6 linked regions of the Homo sapiens genome follow. The protein of the gene in region 2 purifies or fractionates together with the protein of the main gene of each other region. This does not show direct contact. Each region holds a gene or a part of one and is shown on either strand. Other genes may lie near its edges.

Region 1 (3,500 bases), on a different chromosome or scaffold from region 2:
GCAGGACTGGCTTAGCTGATGGAGCAAACACAATACACTAATAACCAGTAGGAAAAAATCCTGTACTACAGACACTTCCAATGCAGAAGGAACAACTTGCATTCAGAGAACACGAACACAAATAGGACAAAGGCTCCTCTCTCCCCAGAACCAGGTCAGAGAACTAAAGCCATTTAATGTGTGTGTTTCACAACGGTGATACTGGAAGTCGGTTTGGCACTACATGGTCAGGCCACTTAAAAGCCTGAGCAATCTACAGATTTCATACTTTGACCTCCTTCATACTTACAGACATTTCCTTAATAATTCTACCTAACTGTCATTTTCCAACAGTCTCTTCACGTGAATAGTCACCGATCACTGCTGGGTGCAGTGGCTCATGCCTGTAATCCCAGCACTTTGGGAGGCCAAGGTAGGCCGATCACCTGAGGTGAGGGGTTCAAGACCAGTCTGGCCAAGATGGTGAAACCCTGTCTCTACTAAAAATGCAAAAATTAGTCGGGCACGGTGGCGCACACCTGTAATCTCAGCTAACCGGGAAGCTGAGAAAGGACAATTGCTTGAACCCAGGAGGCAGAGGTTGCAGTGAGCCGAGATCATGCCACTGTACTCCAGCCTGGGCGACAGAGCAAGACTCTGTCTCAAAAAAAAAAAAAAAAAAAAAAAAGATGCACTGATCACTCAGTAAGGAGGACTGCAAAAGATACTCCTCCAGCTTCCATCTTCAGAAAGGAATCACAAGTCTATTTTTGTTTTTTGAGACAGAGTCTCTGTCACCCAGGCTGGAGTGCAGTGGTGCGATCTCGGCTCACTGAAACCTCCACCCCCTGGGTTCAAGCGATTCTCCTGCCTCAGCCTCCCGAGTAGCTGGGATTATAGGTGCCTGCCACCATGCCCAGCCAGGAATCACAAGTATTAAACTTTCCTTTCAGTAGGAACACTTACTGTTCTTTTGTTGAGACGAGTCTCACTCTATTGCCCAGGCTGGAGTGCAGTGGCATGATCTCAGCTCACAGCAACCTCTGCCACCCGGATTCAAGTGATTCTTGTGCCTCAGCTTCCCTAGTAGCTGGGATTACAGGCAGCTGCCACGATTGGCTGATTTTTGTATTTTTAGTAGAGACAGGGTTTCACCATGTTGGCCAGGCTGGTCTCGAACTCCTGACCTCAAGTGATCTGCCCACCTCAGTCTCCCAAAGGGCTGGGATTACAGGCGTGAGCCACTGTGCCTGGCCAACACTTATTGTACTTTAATTTAATGAACTTTTTTTTTTTTTTTAAGAGACAAGGTCTTGCTATGTTGCCAGGCTGATCTCAAACTACTGGGCTCAAGTGATCCTCCTACCTCAGCCTCCCAAAGTGCTGGAATTATAGACATAAGCCATCATGCCTAGCTAATAAATATTTCTTGGCCGGGCACGGTGGCTCATGCCTGTAATCCCAGCATTTTGGGAGGCTGAGGCGGGTGGATCACGAGGTCAGGAGTTCAAGACCATCCTGGCCAACATGGTGAAACCCCATCTCTACTAAAAATACAAAAATTAGCCCGGCGTGGTGGCATGTGCCTGTAGTCCCAGCTACTAGGGAGGCTGAGGCAGGAGAATAGCTTGAACCCGGGAGGCAGAGGTTGCAGTGAGCCGAGATCACACCACTGCACTCCAGCCTGGGTGACAGAGCGAGACTCCATCTCAAGGAAAAAAAAAAAATTCTTGAACACCTACTTATTATGTGTACACTAAGTATATACTAGTGAATAAAGAATATAGGATCTGTCATCATAATACTTTCTCAGGAATTAGAAACTATTCCCTTACTTCTGCTAGAAGTTCGTAGAAGTTTTATGGCTGGGCGCGGCAGCTCACGCCTGTAATCCCAGCACTGTGGGAGGTGGAGGCGGGCGGATCACGAGGTCAGGAGATCGAGACCATCCTGGCTAACACGGTGAAACCCTGTCTCTACTAAAAATACAAAAAATTAGCGGGGCGAGGTGGTGGGCGCCTACAGTCCCAGCTACTCAGGAGGCTGAGGCAGGAGAATGGCGTGAACCCCAGAGGCGGATCTTGCAGTGAGCCGGGATCGAGCCACCGCACTCTAGCCTAGGCGACAGAGCGAAACTGTCTCAAAAAAAAAAAAAAAAAAAAAAAAAAAAAAGAAGTTCTTACAAGTTTTAACTCCCTGACACTTTAGGGATTTACAAGAAACTTTTCCAGATCCCATCCTACTTTGCAGAATTGTAATCTGAAGGTAGGATCCAGGAAACTGCAACATAAGCAAGCATTACAGGTGACAATGCCCACTGTGAGTTTACAGACCTTTTAAAATAGCATCATGTTAAAAGAAATACAGAGGGCTGGGTGCAGTGGCTCACGCCTGTAATCTCAGCACTTTGGGAAGCTGAGACTGGTGGATTGCTTGAGCCCAGGAGTTCGAAACCAGCCTGGACAACATGGCAAAACACTGTCTCCAAAAAAACTACAAAAAAATTAGCCAGGCGTGGCTGTGCGTGCCTGTGGTCCCAGCTACTCGGGGGGATTGCTTGGGCCCATGAGGTTGAGGCTGTAGTAATAGCAAGCCATGTTCGCACCACTGCACTCCAGCCCCACCCCCCAAAAAAAACCCAAAACAGAGAACTAAGGAACTTGTGCAGTTGAAGCACAGTTGAAGCCAGAACTGAAAGATAATCAGATGCTAAGAAAGATCTATTGCTACAGTTGCCTCATTACGGTTTTAAATTTCACATCCTACTCTGTTGCATAAAGTATTGACACAGGGCAGAAAGAATCATTGTGTGGCTTTATTGAAATCCACCAAGTCTGGTTTCCCTTCTGCTGCCCCTTGGATTTTAAGTCAGGAATGCCAACTCTATCGCTGCTACCTACCATACTATTCTTGCTGCCTCCCCATGCATTCATTCACCTGCTACCAACCTAAAGGCCACTGGGAAGACCAAATGCAGTCATCTCACCACTAACACCCCATAAGGCTTCCCCTGCCATTCTAGTATCAAGGAATCACCGTTACTTTGGGTAGGCTGATAGTCAAAGTGAGGGCACAGAGATATGAGCCCTTACCTTTAAAAAATTTGGGCTTTAAAACCTAACTAAATATTTTGCAGGACAAAACCAACTCGGTTTTGTTGAACCCAATTTCTGAGTAGGACTTATACAGGTGATGTTGTACAGTGGTATAAGTCCAATGTAAAGAAACCATTGGTTCCTTTGCATTTAAGTGTCTTGAAAAAGTCTAGAAGTAATCTAGAAACATCTTTGAATTGATTTACTCAGTTTCAAACATACTAGCTTGGAGAAGCAATTTTCAGTGGCTCAAGAGACAGTTCCCTTTAGCTAGGGTTGGTTAAGCATGTTGACTTCAAAAGTCCAGAAGTGAACTGCAGCCCTACTTCAATTCCTAGCCCAAATCCAAACCCAGATCATCTGTGAAAAGACATTTTTGATGTCACAAAACTGAGTCACCCACAGATAATACTAAGGCCATTGCTT
Region 2 (2,461 bases):
ATGTGTGGTCTGGTTGTTGTGAGGGAGGGAGTACCGCAAGATGGATATTGCTAGAGCCTGTACCCTGCTCCTGGGATGTCCCCGTCTCTGTCCTGGGGCGATTGCTTCTCCCTCCTGAATAGTCAGGGGAGAGTGTCACCTTGACAGAGGGGTTTACAGTGTCACCATTGTCACCACCAGAGGGCAGCAGCCAGCCAGACCTCTGCTTCTCTCAAGGTCTTGTCTCCTGGCTCTCTTTATCTTTCCAAATCTTGTCCCAGCTGCTTCTGGTCTCATTCAACCCCAGGAGCACAGGTGGGAGAGTAGAGAGGCACTGGAAGCTGTAGGTGGTGTCCTTTGCCACTGTCTTGGTGAAGTCCCCAAGAGGTTAAACCCAGTTCCCAAAGCCACACCAAAGTCTTGCCAAGATTTCAACCTGACTCTTCTGTGTGACTGCCGGACCCCTGAGAGCAACAGGGAGGCCATTCCCAGATCATCTGTGAGACCTGGCTGGGGGTCCCAGACCCCAGCTATGGTATAGTAAGCTTTGGTCAGCTCCTTCCTTTTTGAGGGCATGAGGAAGGCAAAGCTGCAGTCAAGCGTTCATGAAGCAGTCTATGCCCCATGTAAACAGCGTGGCTGGTTAGTTAACCTCTCTGAGCCCTTCTCATTGGCTGAATTCATGACTGATGAGTAGTGAGAGAATATGAGTGAAGGTGATTTGTAAACTATGATGTGTCAAACACATTTAAGGGACAATGATGATACTAGAGAAAAAACACTGGACTCAGGCTCAGATGTGGGTTTGAGATCTGTCTGCCATTTACAGTGGGTGACTTTTGGGAAAGTCAGTTAACTTCTCTGGGTCTCCAATACCATCTGAAACCTCTCTAGAGTTGTAGGCACTGGGCCTATTTGAGGGGTTGTTTTTGCTAAGACCCTGGGAATGCCTCCTGTAGCTCAGCAGAAGGACCAGGGCCAGGTGGGTATTCCTGGTGGAAGCAAAGTCAGCTGACTGGGCACCCTCAAATGAACTTTTGTGGTTGTCAGGAACGTGTGACGACGGCTGGAGGCCAACAGAGTCCCTACAGGTGGTGCTCACGGTAATGCACCGACAATGAGTGGCTGTTTTCCAGTTTCTGGCCTCCGCTGCCTATCTAGGGTAAGTGGGTCCCTCCAGGGGTCTCCTAGGATGAGGCCTCAGCCCCCAGTTTCCCATCACCTTTCCATAGGGCCTTGGGAGAGGCCCTATCCAGCCCGTTTTAGGTTTACCCTCACCTCTACTGGGGCTTCATTAATTCCTAGAAGCTTCCATCCCAGGTGTGGGGTCCTGATGCTTTATATCTGCAATTTGAAGGATCCTGGGCCACTGAAATGCCCACTGGATGTTGATGAGACCAGAGGGTGACTCTAGGGATGAGGTGGAAGGGACAGCTTGGTTAGGGAGGCAGATAGCCAATCGAAATCCCAGCTCCGAAATGAGGAGCTTGGGTTTCTGTTTCACAAGGTGTGCCAGGCCATAAGCACACCAGGAATATGAGAGAGGGGCTTAGGAAGAAACCAGAAAGAGAAACAATCCCATCTCAATTAACTGGGGTGGGAGCTGGGCGGGAGAAAAGCAGTGTGTGGGTATCTGGAAGCTGCATGTCACCTGCTCACTGCCCCTCTGCGCCTCTCACACACTGGCAGGCAAAGGTGATGGAAACTTGCTGCCAAGGGCTCTTGCTGCCTCCATTGCTTGCCTTTCCTTGTGCCCAGACATGTCCCCTCTTGTCCTCTGTCCTCTCCCATGCTGCCTACCACCCTCCCCTCCAACAAGAATCTGGCCCAAGGTCTCCGCTTCCTGGAACTCCCTTATCCCTACCCCTACTCTGTCTTCCTGTCCAGCAGTCTGTCTCCAAGATCCCCTAGAATGACCTCCTCTCAGCCCTCTCCTCCACACCCCCCAAGTCCCCACTACCTGGCCCCTCCCACTCCTCTGCCTTTTCAGCCACTGCTGCTCTCTTCTCTTCTCCCTTACCTGTCTCCCAGGTGTGTCATGGCCTGGTGCGGGAGGCTCTTACCTCCCCAAGCCCCACTGCTTCTCCTGCTGCCCGCTTGCTTCGGACTCTGGCAGAAACCCCACCTGCTGACACGTTCCTCCTGGGGAATTGGCAAGTGATTAGTGATGAGCTGTCAGCACAGGGCCCTAAAACTCCCCGAAGAAGCTGTGCCCCATCCCTAGACCCCTGTTCAGTGCCATTGGGCTAGAAGCAGCTCCCAGAGAGCCATAGATTCCCCATGGCCCAAAAGGAGAATGAGGAAACTGGTCCAGTTGGGTGGATGGGTGGTTGGTTTCCCTTGACTCTACCTCAGGGAATGAGGGAGGGGAGAGTTCCCACCACCCTTTCTTGATCCACACCAACAACAGGGGCCACTGGAAGTCTCCAAAACAGTCCAGTCCAGAAACCTCCCCAAAGTGGTGATCCTTGGAAGCTGCTCT
Region 3 (3,500 bases), on a different chromosome or scaffold from region 2:
TCAAGTGATCCTCCTGCCTCAGCCTCCCAAGTAGCTGGGACCACAAGTGCATTCCACCATGCCTTGCTAATTTTCTTTTCTTTTTTTTTTTTTTTTGTAGAGACAGGGTCTCCCCATTTTGCCCAGGCTGGTCTGGAACTCCTGGGCTCAAGTGATTCTCCCACCTTGGCCTCCCAAAATGCTAGGATTACAGACATAAGCCTGGCCTTAAATGCATTTCTGACTTATGACAGGCTTATTGGGATGTAACCCCATCATAATTGCATCTGTATTAAGAAAAGTGGGCGGGGCACGGTGGCTCACGCCTGTAATCCCAGCACTTTGGGAGGCCCAGGCGGGCGGATCACGAGGTCAGGAGATCGAGACCATCCTGGCTAACACGGTGAAACCCCGTCTCTACTAAAAATACAAAAAAATTAGCCGGGCGGATCACGAGGTCAGGAGATCGAGACCATCCTGGCTAACACGGTGAAACCCCGTCTCTAATAAAAATACAAAAAAATTAGCCGGGCGTGGCAGCGGGTGCCTGTAGTCTCAGCTGCTGGGGAGGCTGAGGCAGAAGAATGGTGTGAACCCAGAAGGCAGAGCTTGCAGTGAGCGGAGATGGCGCCACTGCACTCCAGCCTGGGTGAGAGAGCAAGACTCTGTCTCAAAAAAAAAAAAAAAAAAAAAGAAAAGTGAATGAATCACTCTAAAACCTACTAAGATTAAGGTAAAAGCTGTGGGTTAAACAAAAAAAAAAAATGACCTTATTTTTGACATGGATGAAATATACATTCCCATCTTCACAATTGAGACAATGTACTATGAATCTACAATGAGCCAAGCTATTTTAGGTGGTGAGGACTGAGACATAGTCCTTGCCTTCAAAAGCTTGCAAGGGGTGCTTGTAACCAAACCTGTAAACCAAGTATGGAATACGGCCACAAAATGTAAAACACATAGGACACTGCTATGCTAAAAGCCCCAAGGAGAGTAAATTCTGTCTGAGGGACTGGAGAAGGTAGTCCTCTGACTGTGCACGGGGATCACCTGATTCTGAATACAACCTTCCCCTTCCTCAGAATCTACCCTTTCCACTCCATTCCCATGGCTCTGGGACATTCTTGGCTCTCACCAATGACATTCCCATTTACAGTTTATCTCCCTGTTCTTAGGTGTTCACTTTCCTAAACCATCTCTGTATAATGATGTTATGCACGGTTAGAAGAGAGATCACAAACTGCCAATTAAAGACCAAATATGGGACCTAGTAATGTTTTACTTCACCCAGTGAAACGTTTTTAAATTGGGCACTTGTGCCTAAAAGCTGAAACCTGTAGTTTCTCTTGAAAAATGAGAAACGATAGCACTGTATTAGCAAAATAATTACTGGCTGGAGCTGAGGAGCCCCTGGCCCCTCCAGTTATGGCATCTGATTTTAAATTTCCTACAGTTTCCATCGTCCAGCTTCATTCACTTTGAGGCCTGGATCCCAAAGATATTGAGTGCATGAACAGGGCTAGATGTGGAGCCATCTTAGCCAAACCCCTCCATCCTCCTTGTTGCCTGGAGAATCAAGTGTTGACTTCTTACAGTATCAACCAGGGTGCTTCACGATCTGCTCCACCTTCTCAGCTTGGCTGTCTCCCACAGTCCTCCTCACATTCGTGTTTTCATCACGAAAACAACTTGGGGCTTTCTACACAAGTTCTGCATAATGCACGTCCCACGCCTATGCCCTCACTCAGATCTCTCCCCAGTTTCCTTGTCCGTTTCATTTCCTTTGCAAAAAAAAAAGCCCTTTCCCCTCTTTAATGCACAGCTCACATGCCGCAGTCCTCATTACATCTTCTCTAACTCCCCACTAGAATCAACAGCTCTCCCTTTAGTCATCATTTATTCCATTCTGTCTTATATTAAATATCATGTGTGGCCAGGCGCGGTGGCTCACGTCTATAATCCTAGCACTTTGGGAGGCTGAGGTGGATGGATCCATTGAGGTCAGGAGTTTGAGACCAGCCTGGCCAATGTGGTGAAACCCAGTCTCTACTAAAAATACAGAAATTAGCCAGTCATGGTGGTGGGTGCCTGTGATCCCAGCTCAGGGGAGCCTGAGGCAGGAGAATCGCTTGAACCCAGGAGGCGGAGGTTGCAGTGAGCTGAGATTGTGCCACTGCACTCCGGCCTGGGCCACAGAGCAAGATTCTCTCAAAACAACAACAAGAACAACAACAACAACAACAACAACAAGAACAAGAAAGTCATGTGTGTATCTTTCTCATCAGATTATAACCACCCTGAGGGTAGTCATTAACACAGTCTGGCATCTTTGTCTACTACAGACTCTCAAATTGTGTATTGAAATGCATGCATTAAAAAAAATCTTCATAACCAGAGAATATGAAAATATTTTTAAAAACATTGAAAATATTAAGTAAAAAAGCTTAGTATAATTCTAAGTGACAAAACCAAAACCAGTCCTGCACATACATATATAACAGTATGTCACAACTACAGATAACAATGGGTGGCTGGGCGCAGTGGTTCACGCCTGTAATCCCAGTACTTTGGGAGGCCGAAGTGCTAAGGTCGGGAGTTCGAGACCAGCCTGACCAACATGGAGAAACCCCGTCTCTACTAAAAATACAAAATTAGCTGGGCGTGGTAGCACATGCCTGTAATCCCAGCTACTTGGGAGGCTGAAGCAGAAGAATCACTTGAACCCAGGAAGCAGAGGTTGCAGTGAGCCAAGATTGTGCCATTGCACTCCAGCCTGGGCAACAAGAGCAAAACTCTGTCTCAAAAACAAAAACACAAAAAACAAAAAAACCACACACACAAACAAAAAACAAATAAAGAAAAAACAAACAAACAATGGGTAAGGGAAAAAAAAAGCTGAGTTAGAATAGCTAGAGTTATGGTTAATTTTTTCCCTTTCACAAACTTTCTGAAATATACTTACATGTTAATATCATGCTGCAAAAAAATATAACTTAAAAAGTACTCAAATTTTTGGTAGGTCTAGCATGAACCTATTATACCATAAAGAACTACCCTGAGCTGGGTGCGGTGGCTCACAGCTGTAATCCCAGCACTTTGGAAGGCTGAGGTGGGAGGATGACTTGAGCCCAGGAGTTTGAGACTGGCCTGGACAACACAGTGAGACCTTGTCTTTATAAAAAATCAAAAGGAAAAAACAAAACAAAACAAAACAAAAAACAAAAAAAACTATCCTGAACCAGACTCTTAGTATTTACTTTAATCTTCATGGGACAGAGAGACAGAAAAAATAGTTGTCACATGATGACTAGGGGAGGTACATATCAAGTTTCTTAGAGATAGCAGATTTAGCTTTTCTACCCAAGAGCTGCTCAGAGATGTGACCTCTCAACTAAGCAGCTCATATAACAAATATACGATAAACTCATATAACAAATCACACCTTCCACAGGCATCATGGTTTTATGAACTCATAGAGTAGGGGTTGGCATTCTTTCTGTAAATGGCCAAACAGTAAT
Region 4 (3,500 bases), on a different chromosome or scaffold from region 2:
CACAGTGCCTGCATCACACCCTGCACTGCACCCCTGCACCCTGGGCTTCACAGTCAGAGCCCTCCTCACACCACTGCTGAGCTCAGGCAAGTGCACAAGGAAAGCTGTGGCTCACTGCTCGGCTCCAGCAGAGGTGGTCCCATGGACCACCTGTTGCTACAGAGGGGTCGGCAGCCCTGTCACTCAAGGCAGGGTTTGCTCTGCAAGCTGCCCCAGCCTGGCGCCTCCTCTACGCCACCCCCCCAGCTCCTCCTGCAGCTCCTGTTGCTCCTTTCCAGGCCTACCCGGTCATACCTCATGCCTCACCCTGCCCTTGGCCTTTACAGATGGTGGCTGCAGTTCAGAGAAAGGTCATCACTGAGAATAACTCACAACCTCAACTCTGTGAGCGTGGCAAGGGGGACTCGGGTTACCCCACAGTGGGTGTTGCAGGCAGGCACCCAAGGGAGTGTCATGTGGCCCTGCAAGCTCAGCCCGCCCTCAGGTGGAAGTGGAGCCCTCATCCTGCCTGGGTTGCTCTTGCCCTCCAAGCCTCTCTGAGGGCCTCTCTACCTTTCCCCAAGCTAGGTATGCAGCAGGTACTCAATAAACACTGACCTGACCTCATGGGCCTCTCAACAGCCATGACTTGGCAAAGGACACTTAATTCACCCAGTGCAGAAGTGCTTGTACTTACATCCCAGAACTCGAACATGTTTTGAGGGTCAATTCCAAACTCCTTCACTTTGGTCTACAAAAAAAAAAACAAAGGGAGAGAAATGCAAAGAAGCATTTGCTAGCGGGATGGGAACAGGAGCTCCGGGAGGCAGGGAGCTGTGCTCCGTGAGCTGAGCCTCACCTTCCCCAGAGCCAGGGATGGGGCAGGGCTGGAGCAGCCTGTGAGTCGAGGGCAGGGCCCAGGATCTGCCCACCCCAAGCTGGACACCAGATCAGTCCATGACCAGCACGCCAGTGACGTTGTGCCTGCAAAGCCCCCTGCTGAGGGCAGCTGTAACCCCGTGTGAGGACCTGGCCCACACACTGCTCTGCAACAGCTCTCACCCAGGCCTGCCTGGGACACCAGAGCATGATACCCCTGGACATCTGGGAACCGAACCTAGGACTGGGACCCAAGTGTGGGCAGGGGCCACCTACCAGGCCAGGCAAACAAACACAGGCTGAACAGCCACCCAGCCCTTCCCATGTGTGGGAGGGTGACTGCACCAGGAAGCTCTGAGGAGCCATCAGGTATTCTGGTCCCCAGGGCAGACAGGGCCAGCAATTCCTTACCTATTCCACATAGGAGGAGAAGCCCTACTGACCAGTCAGTTGCAGGCAGGCAACAGTGCTATGGTTAGCCAGCCTTATGGCGTCCTGCTGCAGCTGGGTAGGCACTGGAGGCAGAGATGTGGGGATGATGGTGGAGGGGGTGGGAGGGAGATGTGGGTGTAGTCCCCAGCTCTGACACAGCACAGTGCCCACTGGCTGACTGCTGCTGTCACTCCTGGAGCATCCCTCACTCTGTCATGCCCTGCTGAGCCTGCACAACCTCGAGGCCAGGCAGACTGTGAGAACTTGGAGACAGGAGACCCAGGTTCTAATCCTGGCATCACCTACTCATACAGTCACTAAGTGGGCCGGGTACAGTGGCTCATGCCTATAATCCCAACACTTTGGTAGGCCGAGGTGGGCAGATCACTTGAGGTCAAGAATTCGAGACCAGCCTGGCCACCATGGAGAAAACCTGTCTCTACCAAAAATACAAAAATTACCTGGACGTGGTAGTGGGCGCCTGTAATCCCAGAATCAGCAGGCTGAGGCATAAAAATTACTTGAACCCAGAAGGCAGAGGTTGCAGTGAGCCAAGATCGTACCACTGCACTCTAGCCTGAGTGACAGAGTGACCTTGTCTCAAAAAATAAGCTGGACATGGTGGCACACACCTGTAATCCCAGCACTTTGGGAGGCTGAGGTGGGCAGATCACTTAAGGTCAGGAGTCAGAGACCAGCCTGGCCAACGTGGTGAAACCCCGTCTCTACTAAAAATACGAAAATAGCTGGGCATGGTGGCGTGCACCTGTAATCCCAGCTACTCGGGAGGCTAAGGCAGGAGAATCGCTTGAACCTGGAAGGCAGAGGTTGCAGTGAGCCAAGATCACGCCACTGCACTCCAGCCTGGGCAACAGAGTGAGACTGTCTTAAAAAAAAAAAAAAAAAAAAAAAAAACAAAACCACACACACTAAGTAGGGGGCAAAATGTCACCTCCCTTCATTGGGGCTTTATGTCCTTAAGTGAAAAATGGAATGCATCCTCTACCCCTACCTAGCATGTCACATTTGGGGAGATGCTGGGCACAAAGGCCTAGGAAGGTCATGTGTATGAAGGGTTCTGTGTATCAGTCAGGCCTGGGAGACGGAAGAAGGGGTTATCGTGATCCCACTGACTCCAAGCCTCCCTCCTCAAAGCTGCAGAGGTTGAATGGGTAAATGCGGAAAAGGCAAGGAAGGCTTGCAGCCCACAGGCAACCAAACCTTCCATACCATCAGCCAAGCCAAGATCCACCAGACCTACGAACCGCGTCTCTGAGAGGCCATGACCTGGACATGCTGGGCACTCCCAGGAAGGCAGTACAGGGGACCACGGGGGCACTTACTGTGTTAGTAGACAGGGCAACAAAGTGCTTCGCCACTGCAGAAGGCTACAAGAGACAGAGCCAAGTTACCACAGCCAGCCCAGGGAGACAAAGGGTAGTCACTTCCCATCACTAGAGGAACCAAGGCCCTGCATGGGACTGAGATTCCCAGTCCTTGGTTCTGAGACTGTTGGAGAAGGCCCACATCGAGGTCAAGGTCAAGAAAGCAGACGGGTCACAGGCCGCCTGCTCATCCCATCTTACAAGCATACGGGGCTCAGGGACGTCCCTCCCCTATAAAATAGGTGTGGCCAAGAGTTCCTGCAGCGCCAAGGGCCTGCAGAGAAAGGGCCATGCAAGGGCTGTCAGCCAGCGAGAGCAGGTTCTGTCACATCTGCAAGGCTGGGTCTGACAAAGCCAAGATGAACAATCATCTCATCTAGCAAAGGCAGGCACCGGCAAGGCCGCCTTCACTTCCAACTTCAGGAGAAACACGGCCAGACTTGGTCACTCAGGGGCCCACCCTGCTCTTCCCAGCCCAGAGGCTAACCACGAGGAAGGCCCTATAGCCCACTCACATCCTTGGCCGCCTGGAGAAACCACTCCTTCGCCGTCTCTGCATTCGTGATGGTCTCCTGGGTAGTAAAGGTCTGCAACCAAAGAGAACAGCAGTGGGCGCCCGAGCTTAGGGGTGGGTGCAGGCCTTGAGCCAGGGTTCAGCAGTAGAGGCCAAGGCAATGCCCAGCTGTCCCATGGAGCAGTATTTGCAGGTCAGTGACAGTGACGCCACATAACCTCCTGAGATTCCAGCTCTTTAAAACCAGAGGAGGGGGGACGGTAAACACACCCCCCAACCCTAAGCCTGCAGGTCAAAGGCCGCAGCTTCTC
Region 5 (2,561 bases), on a different chromosome or scaffold from region 2:
GAGAATCATGTGAGCCCAGGAGGTGGAGGTTGCAGTGAGCTGAGATCGTGCCACTGCACTGCAGCCTGGGCGACAGAGAGAGACTCCATCTCAAAAAATAAAAACTAAATTATCAGGCCCAGAGAGGCAATAGAATGAAATCATAGTCAGGTCACTCTCTCCCAAGCTACATAATTACCTCTTGAAGCCAAGTATCTATCAAATGCCATATACCCTGTAGTTCAACAGCATATAGCCAATCACTAACCAAGGTTAGTTCTGTAAGCCAATGAGAATTCCTGATAAACAACTTTTGTAATCACCCCTTCACCTTGTGTCAGTAGAGGGTATAAGAGCAGCTGATCTATCCTTTTTTCTTTAAGAAGTGTTCTCTGGAGCACTCTCCAGGGCAACCTGGAAGTGTGTCCCGAGCTGCAGTCCCCAACCTTGGCCCACCTAAACATTCTATATTAATTTTGCCTCAGCTTCTTCCTTTTAAGGTGAATAATCATCACAAAACAGACATTTGAAATATAAGCTTTATTTTAAATTTAAAGAAGTATTGAAAATAAACATTTTTTACAAATTATAATCAAGCACTCAAAACAATTTAGGAATGTTAAACACTAATTCTTAATTCAAAATAATGACATCCATAGAATACAACCCTGGTGTTGGCCAATATGAAGTTTACTTAATATTAGTATTTTATATACACTTAACCATTAATCCTTCCTAAAATTCAATAACAATGATTTCACTTTATAAGATGAAGCCTTTTATGCAATACCCAGAGATAACTTTTTCAAATATGAAACACTTATACCAGTGAGGAAATTATAAAAACATATATCAATTATACTGAAGGACTTGATTTAGAGGCTGTCTGTATATAGATGCATTTCACCTTAGGAAGTACACATGCACATCAAAACACTTCAACTGAATATAGATGCCATTACATTATTTAGTTACGTTACAAAGCAAACGGCAGGTTCATAAACGTTGTTCTATTATGTATCAACTGAAAAAAATATATTCAAAAAAAAAGTTTTTGAAGACTCATGGGAGTGGAATGTGCCCACATTAGGAATAAAGCTTTTACAGGACCACCTGTCTCCAGCTGGCTCCCAGGGACCACTGAAAACAGCTGGCTACCCTCAGAAAGACAAGATGGTCTTGTTAATAATTTCAATGGACTCTCGAAGCTCATCCTCCTTGATCACCAGCGGAGGCGCAAACCTGATAATGTCGCCATGGGTTGGCTTGGCCAGAAGTCCATTATCTCGAAGTCGTAGACACACCTTCCAAGCATCCCAATCTAAAGAAAAATAGTAAAACGTACATGCTCAAAGATAAACGTTTAAACATCCCTTGCCGTATGTATGGGCAAAGTGCAGCCTGGCAAAACAAAATTAACAGAACTTGCTCAACTAAGGGAAGCTTGGGCTGGGAGCGGTGGCTTATGCCTGTAATCCCAGCACTTTGGGAGGCCGAGGTGGGTGGATCACGAGGTCAAGAGATTGAAACCATCCTGGCCAACATTATGAAACCCGTCTCTACTAAAAATACAAAAATTAGCTGGGCATCATGGTGCGCACCTGTAGTCCCAGCTACTCGGGAGACTGAGGCAGGAGAATCGCTTGAACCAGGAGGCGGAGGCTGCAGTGAGCGGAGATCGCGCCACTGCACTCCAGCCTGGTGACAGAGCAAGACACCGTCTCAAAAAAAAAAGAAAGGGAAGCTTGGAGCTGCAAGCTTGCTTTGTTTTTACTCCTAAAAATGAAGTTACTCTTCACTTTTCAGCAAGCACATAACTAGGTTTGAATGATATGATTAGACATATCATAGTTTTTCATAAATGAAAAAGACCAAGCCAAAAAAAAAAAAAAAAATGTGCTAAGGCTGCTGTATTAATCACACAAGGAACTAATGCAAAAGAACTTGGGTATAGGCTGGATGCAGTGGCTCACACCTGTAATCCCAGCACTTTGGGAGGCCGAGGTGGGCAGATCATGAGGTCAAGAGATCGAGACCATCCTGGCCAACATGGTGAAACCCCATCTCTAATAAAAATACAAAAATTAGCCTGTCGTGGTGTGGCACATGCCTGTAGTCCCAGCTACTCAGGAGGCTGAGGCAGGAGAATCGCTTGAACCCAGGAAGTGGAGGTCGCAGTGAGCCAAGATCATGCCACTGTACTCCAGCCTGGCGACAGACACTCCAGCCCAACAGAGCAAGGCACTGTCTCAAAAAATAAAATAAATAAAATAAATAAAATTCTAAAAAAGAAAAAAAAGAACTTGGGTATGATACAGATGATTAACTGACATAAAATGGGCAATACTCAAAACCCAGTGAACACTACACATTCCAAAAAGGGACTCGCTTCCTGAGCTCAACATATTATAGCAGCGATTCTCAACCTGGCTGCACATCAGAATCACCTTAAAGGCTATTGCTAATGCCTGTGCCCCGTCCCAGATCCGTCAAATCAGAATCCCTGGGGTAAGGCCAGGCTTTGACTCATTTTTTTAAGAAGCTCCCCAGGTGATTCTTTTTTTTTTTTTTTTTTTTTTTTT
Region 6 (3,500 bases), on a different chromosome or scaffold from region 2:
TACAAAATTAGCCAGGCGCATGCCTGTAGTCCCAGCTACTCGGGAGGCTGAGGCAGGGGAATTGCTTGAACCCGGGAGGCAGAGGTTGTAGTGAGCCAAGATCGCGCCACTGCACTCCAGCCTGGCAACAGAGCAACACTCCATCTCAAAAAACAAACAAACAAACAAAAAGACAGGATTTTAGAGGAAACCGCTGTTCCACCCTGAAGGCAGGCTGGCAGGGCTGGTAGCCTGGGTCCCTGCAGTCATCCTAAGCTGCTGCACTCACCTGATCCACCAGCAGCTGAGCCAGGCCAGGCTCGCTTGCGCGCAGCTGATTCAGCTTCTTGATGAGCGCGTGCCTGCAACACAGAACCCACCAGAAAAAGCAGCTCAGTACCACGTGCTGTGACCCTCCCTTCATGTTTTGGGATTATCAGGATATTTAAAGAAGCACAGTAAGACTGTCTGTAGTTTTTTAAATAAGGTATGTTAATGATCATTTATAGATAATATCATTATATACCCAGAAAACCCAAGAGAATCAGGAGTGTCAGTATTAGAAAATGCTGTAAGGTAGCCAAACTCCAAGATTAATATACACTAAAGGGACAAAAGGAGCTTAGTACGTGAAGACATGCCTTGGTTCCTAGATAAATAATAAAAGAGAAGGGAGTAAGACCCACATGTTGAAACATATTATAGGGCTCTAGTAAATAAAACAGTTTAGGTCTGGAAAGGGGGAAGGCAAACAACTCCATGTAACGAGGGTGGACACTGAGTGTCTGATGAGGACAGTATTTCACAGAAGAGGGAGGAGACAGATCACTCCATCCAGCAGCACTGGGATGACTGGGAGCCATGCAGAAAACCATTTAGACCAGAGTAAATTCCAGAGGGATCAAAGATGACAAGCACAATTCTAGGGAAGAAATGTTTCATCATCTCAGAAGGGGAAAGCCTTTCCAAGCAAAACCACAAACCAAAAAGTAAAGAATGATTGACATATTTGACGTCAGAACAATATTTTTTTCTGCATAGGAAAAAGCATCATGTAGTATTTAACCTTAACATGAATATTATAATTTTTCACTTAGAAGTCTGATAAAACCGAGGGCTCTGGGGAACTGTAAATTTGTACAACCTCTCCAGAGGACAACTGGAGTCGGGAAAACCACATGTGGATGATATGCTGAGACTCAGCCATTCCATTTCCTAACTGCATCCCTTTAAACACTTTTTTTTTTAGATAGATAGATAGATAGATAGATAGATAGACTCTCACTCCTTCACCCAAGCTAGAGTGAAATGGCATGATCTTGGCTCACCGCAGCCTCCTGGTTTCAAGAGGTTCTCTTGCCTCAGCCTCCCAAGTAACTGGGATTACAGGCACCCACCACCACCCCCAGCTAGTTTTTGTATTTTTAGTAGAGATGAGGTCTCGAACTCCTGACCTCAAGTGATCCACCCGCCTAGGCCTCCCAAAATGTTGGGATTACAGGCGTGAGGCACCGCACCCAACCTAACAGAGGAAACACTTCAAATGCACATCCTCACATTTCTAGTCTACGTAGCTGGAAAAAAAGGACATTCTTAATATGCTAATGTGGAGGTCACCTAGTTACCCTAAGGGAGAAAAGCAAGGCAAGGACCCACTGCACAGCAAGTTCCCCCTTGGAAGCCCACGGGCGCAGCTGCCCACAAATGCACATAATCTCTGCAGAAATACAAAAGCCCTAATGCTGGCTGCACTGGGGACACAGGTAGGAGGAAATTTTCCCCTGTAAGCAGTTTTGAATTCTGAACTATGTGGACAGAACACCAAATTTTAAAACAAATGAAAGTGAAGCTGGCTGGGCACAGTGGCTCTCGCCTGTAATCCCACCACTTTGGGAGGCCAAGGCTGCAGTGAGCTCTGATGGCGCCACTGGTACACTCCAGCCTAGGTGACAGAGCAAGACCCTGTCTCCAAAAGTGAAGTGGCAACAGACAGAAACGAGCACTTCTGCAGCTATCTCACAAAACTAGTTTGCCACCAAAACTAGTTAAAGTGACCTGGTGTCCGCCTCACTGAGCTGCTCCAGCAGAGGCACAGGCATTCTGCATACTGGCGCTGCTGTGCACTGACAGCCATAAGCCAAGTCAGCCTTTCCCCAGGAGTGCCATGGCTAGGAAGATGCATCTCCCTCGCCTCCAGTATAATTTTAAAAGTTATGGTTGTAAAATGACAAAAGAAAAAAACTAGACATGTACTAAAGAACAAAACAAAAACTGGCTGGGGGTGGTAGCCCACACTTGTAATCCCAGCACTTCGGGAGGCTAAGGCAGGTGGATTGTTTGAGGCCAGGAGGTAGAAGTTGCAGTGAGCTGAGATTGCCCCACTGCACTCCAACCTGGGGGACAGAGTGAGACCCTGTCTCAAAAATTAAAATACTACTTAGGCTACATTGTGGGGGGGGTGGTAAGTCTATGGATTTTGATTTCCTTTTTGCTGTTTTCTATTTTTGGTAACATGTTTATGTAACTTCATTTTTTAAAAAATTGCTACATTCAAAATTTCCCCCAAAAAAGAAACTTCATATACAAGTTAGTTCATATACAAGTTAGAAAATGAAATTTTAAAATACCCCATAAGACACATCAAAGAATAATTCTTTAAAAATGGTACCAGAACCCTACAGAGAATGTAAGGTACCAAAGGATGTTAAAGACCTAAATAGATCACATTCATGGGTGCAAAGAAGTGATACTGTAAAAAGAAAGAAACTCAAAAGATACCTAAAGGCAGGTGAAAAGACATTTACAACAGATAAAGGGCATATAAAGAACAACAGGAAGAAACGAGGGAAATCTTACGGCTCAGCCACTGTCAGGGCTGGGGGGTTCTCGGTGCACCCTGGAAGCAGCTCCCACCACCGGGGCCACAGAGAAACCCACACAAGCCCCAGACACGTGGACAAGAATACTCAGAGCAGCCTGGCTCTCCACAACTTCTGACCAAGAACCACCGGAGGCCCAGCAGAGCAGAACGGAGCAGTCTGCTGTGCCGAGGTGGGTTTCTGCAGCGGACATTATTCGGCTATGAAAATGAACTTGTGGCAGCCCCTCTGCATGGGCAACCCTCATGCCAAGTGAGCAACGTGAGACTTCAGCAAACACCAAGATCCACGTACAAAGCTCAAAACAGGCAAAACTGAGCATGTCCAGGACACGCACAGGTGGCAAAGCCATAAAGCAAAACGAGGACATGGTCACAGGCTGGGATGTGGCTAACCTCCCAGGTGACACCTGGGGATGGTAAGGGGCTGGCCAGGTTCCATTTCACATGGGTGCAGCCTAAACTGCATACAGCTCCTTATAGTTACCCACATGTCCACAGGCCTCACGCACTTTTCTTCTGTGTCACATTCCACAACAAAAGAACACCACACACAGGATTCTGGGGAATCCCACAGGCTGGAAGAGCCAGGAGCGTGGCCTCACCTGGGGTTGATCTCCAGCGTGGGCTGCAGGAGCTGTGC

Evidence for each region.
Region 1: the proteins of PHOSPHO1 (region 2) and CS purify together in Homo sapiens (affinity purification with mass spectrometry; one large-scale study listed by BioGRID and IntAct). This does not show direct contact.
Region 3: the proteins of PHOSPHO1 (region 2) and GOT2 purify together in Homo sapiens (affinity purification with mass spectrometry; one large-scale study listed by BioGRID and IntAct). This does not show direct contact.
Region 4: the proteins of PHOSPHO1 (region 2) and GPI purify together in Homo sapiens (affinity purification with mass spectrometry; one large-scale study listed by BioGRID and IntAct). This does not show direct contact.
Region 5: the proteins of PHOSPHO1 (region 2) and OAT purify together in Homo sapiens (affinity purification with mass spectrometry; one large-scale study listed by BioGRID and IntAct). This does not show direct contact.
Region 6: the proteins of PHOSPHO1 (region 2) and TRAP1 purify together in Homo sapiens (affinity purification with mass spectrometry; one large-scale study listed by BioGRID and IntAct). This does not show direct contact.

What each region holds. Positions count from the first base shown.
Region 1 is NC_000012.12:56,293,831-56,297,330, forward strand, and holds part of CS (citrate synthase, mitochondrial precursor), read right to left. Parts: intron 1-3,500. UniProt on the Homo sapiens protein: Key enzyme of the Krebs tricarboxylic acid cycle which catalyzes the synthesis of citrate from acetyl coenzyme A and oxaloacetate.
Region 2 is NC_000017.11:49,225,327-49,227,787, reverse strand, and holds part of PHOSPHO1 (phosphoethanolamine/phosphocholine phosphatase), read left to right. Parts: intron 1-1,029; 5' UTR 1,030-1,096; coding exon 1,097-1,141; intron 1,142-2,010; coding exon of another isoform or gene 2,011-2,132; intron 2,133-2,461. UniProt on the Homo sapiens protein: Phosphatase that has a high activity toward phosphoethanolamine (PEA) and phosphocholine (PCho). Involved in the generation of inorganic phosphate for bone mineralization.
Region 3 is NC_000016.10:58,710,317-58,713,816, forward strand, and holds part of GOT2 (aspartate aminotransferase, mitochondrial isoform 1 precursor), read right to left. Parts: intron 1-3,500. UniProt on the Homo sapiens protein: Catalyzes the irreversible transamination of the L-tryptophan metabolite L-kynurenine to form kynurenic acid (KA). As a member of the malate-aspartate shuttle, it has a key role in the intracellular NAD(H) redox balance.
Region 4 is NC_000019.10:34,378,696-34,382,195, reverse strand, and holds part of GPI (glucose-6-phosphate isomerase), read right to left. Parts: intron 3,263-3,500; coding exon 3,191-3,262; intron 2,679-3,190; coding exon 2,634-2,678; intron 731-2,633; coding exon 677-730; intron 1-676. UniProt on the Homo sapiens protein: In the cytoplasm, catalyzes the conversion of glucose-6-phosphate to fructose-6-phosphate, the second step in glycolysis, and the reverse reaction during gluconeogenesis.
Region 5 is NC_000010.11:124,396,803-124,399,363, forward strand, and holds the end of OAT (ornithine aminotransferase, mitochondrial isoform 1 precursor), read right to left. Parts: intron 1,301-2,561; coding exon 1,140-1,300; 3' UTR 501-1,139; downstream 1-500. UniProt on the Homo sapiens protein: Catalyzes the reversible interconversion of L-ornithine and 2-oxoglutarate to L-glutamate semialdehyde and L-glutamate.
Region 6 is NC_000016.10:3,658,525-3,662,024, forward strand, and holds part of TRAP1 (heat shock protein 75 kDa, mitochondrial isoform 1 precursor), read right to left. Parts: coding exon 3,463-3,500; intron 342-3,462; coding exon 269-341; intron 1-268.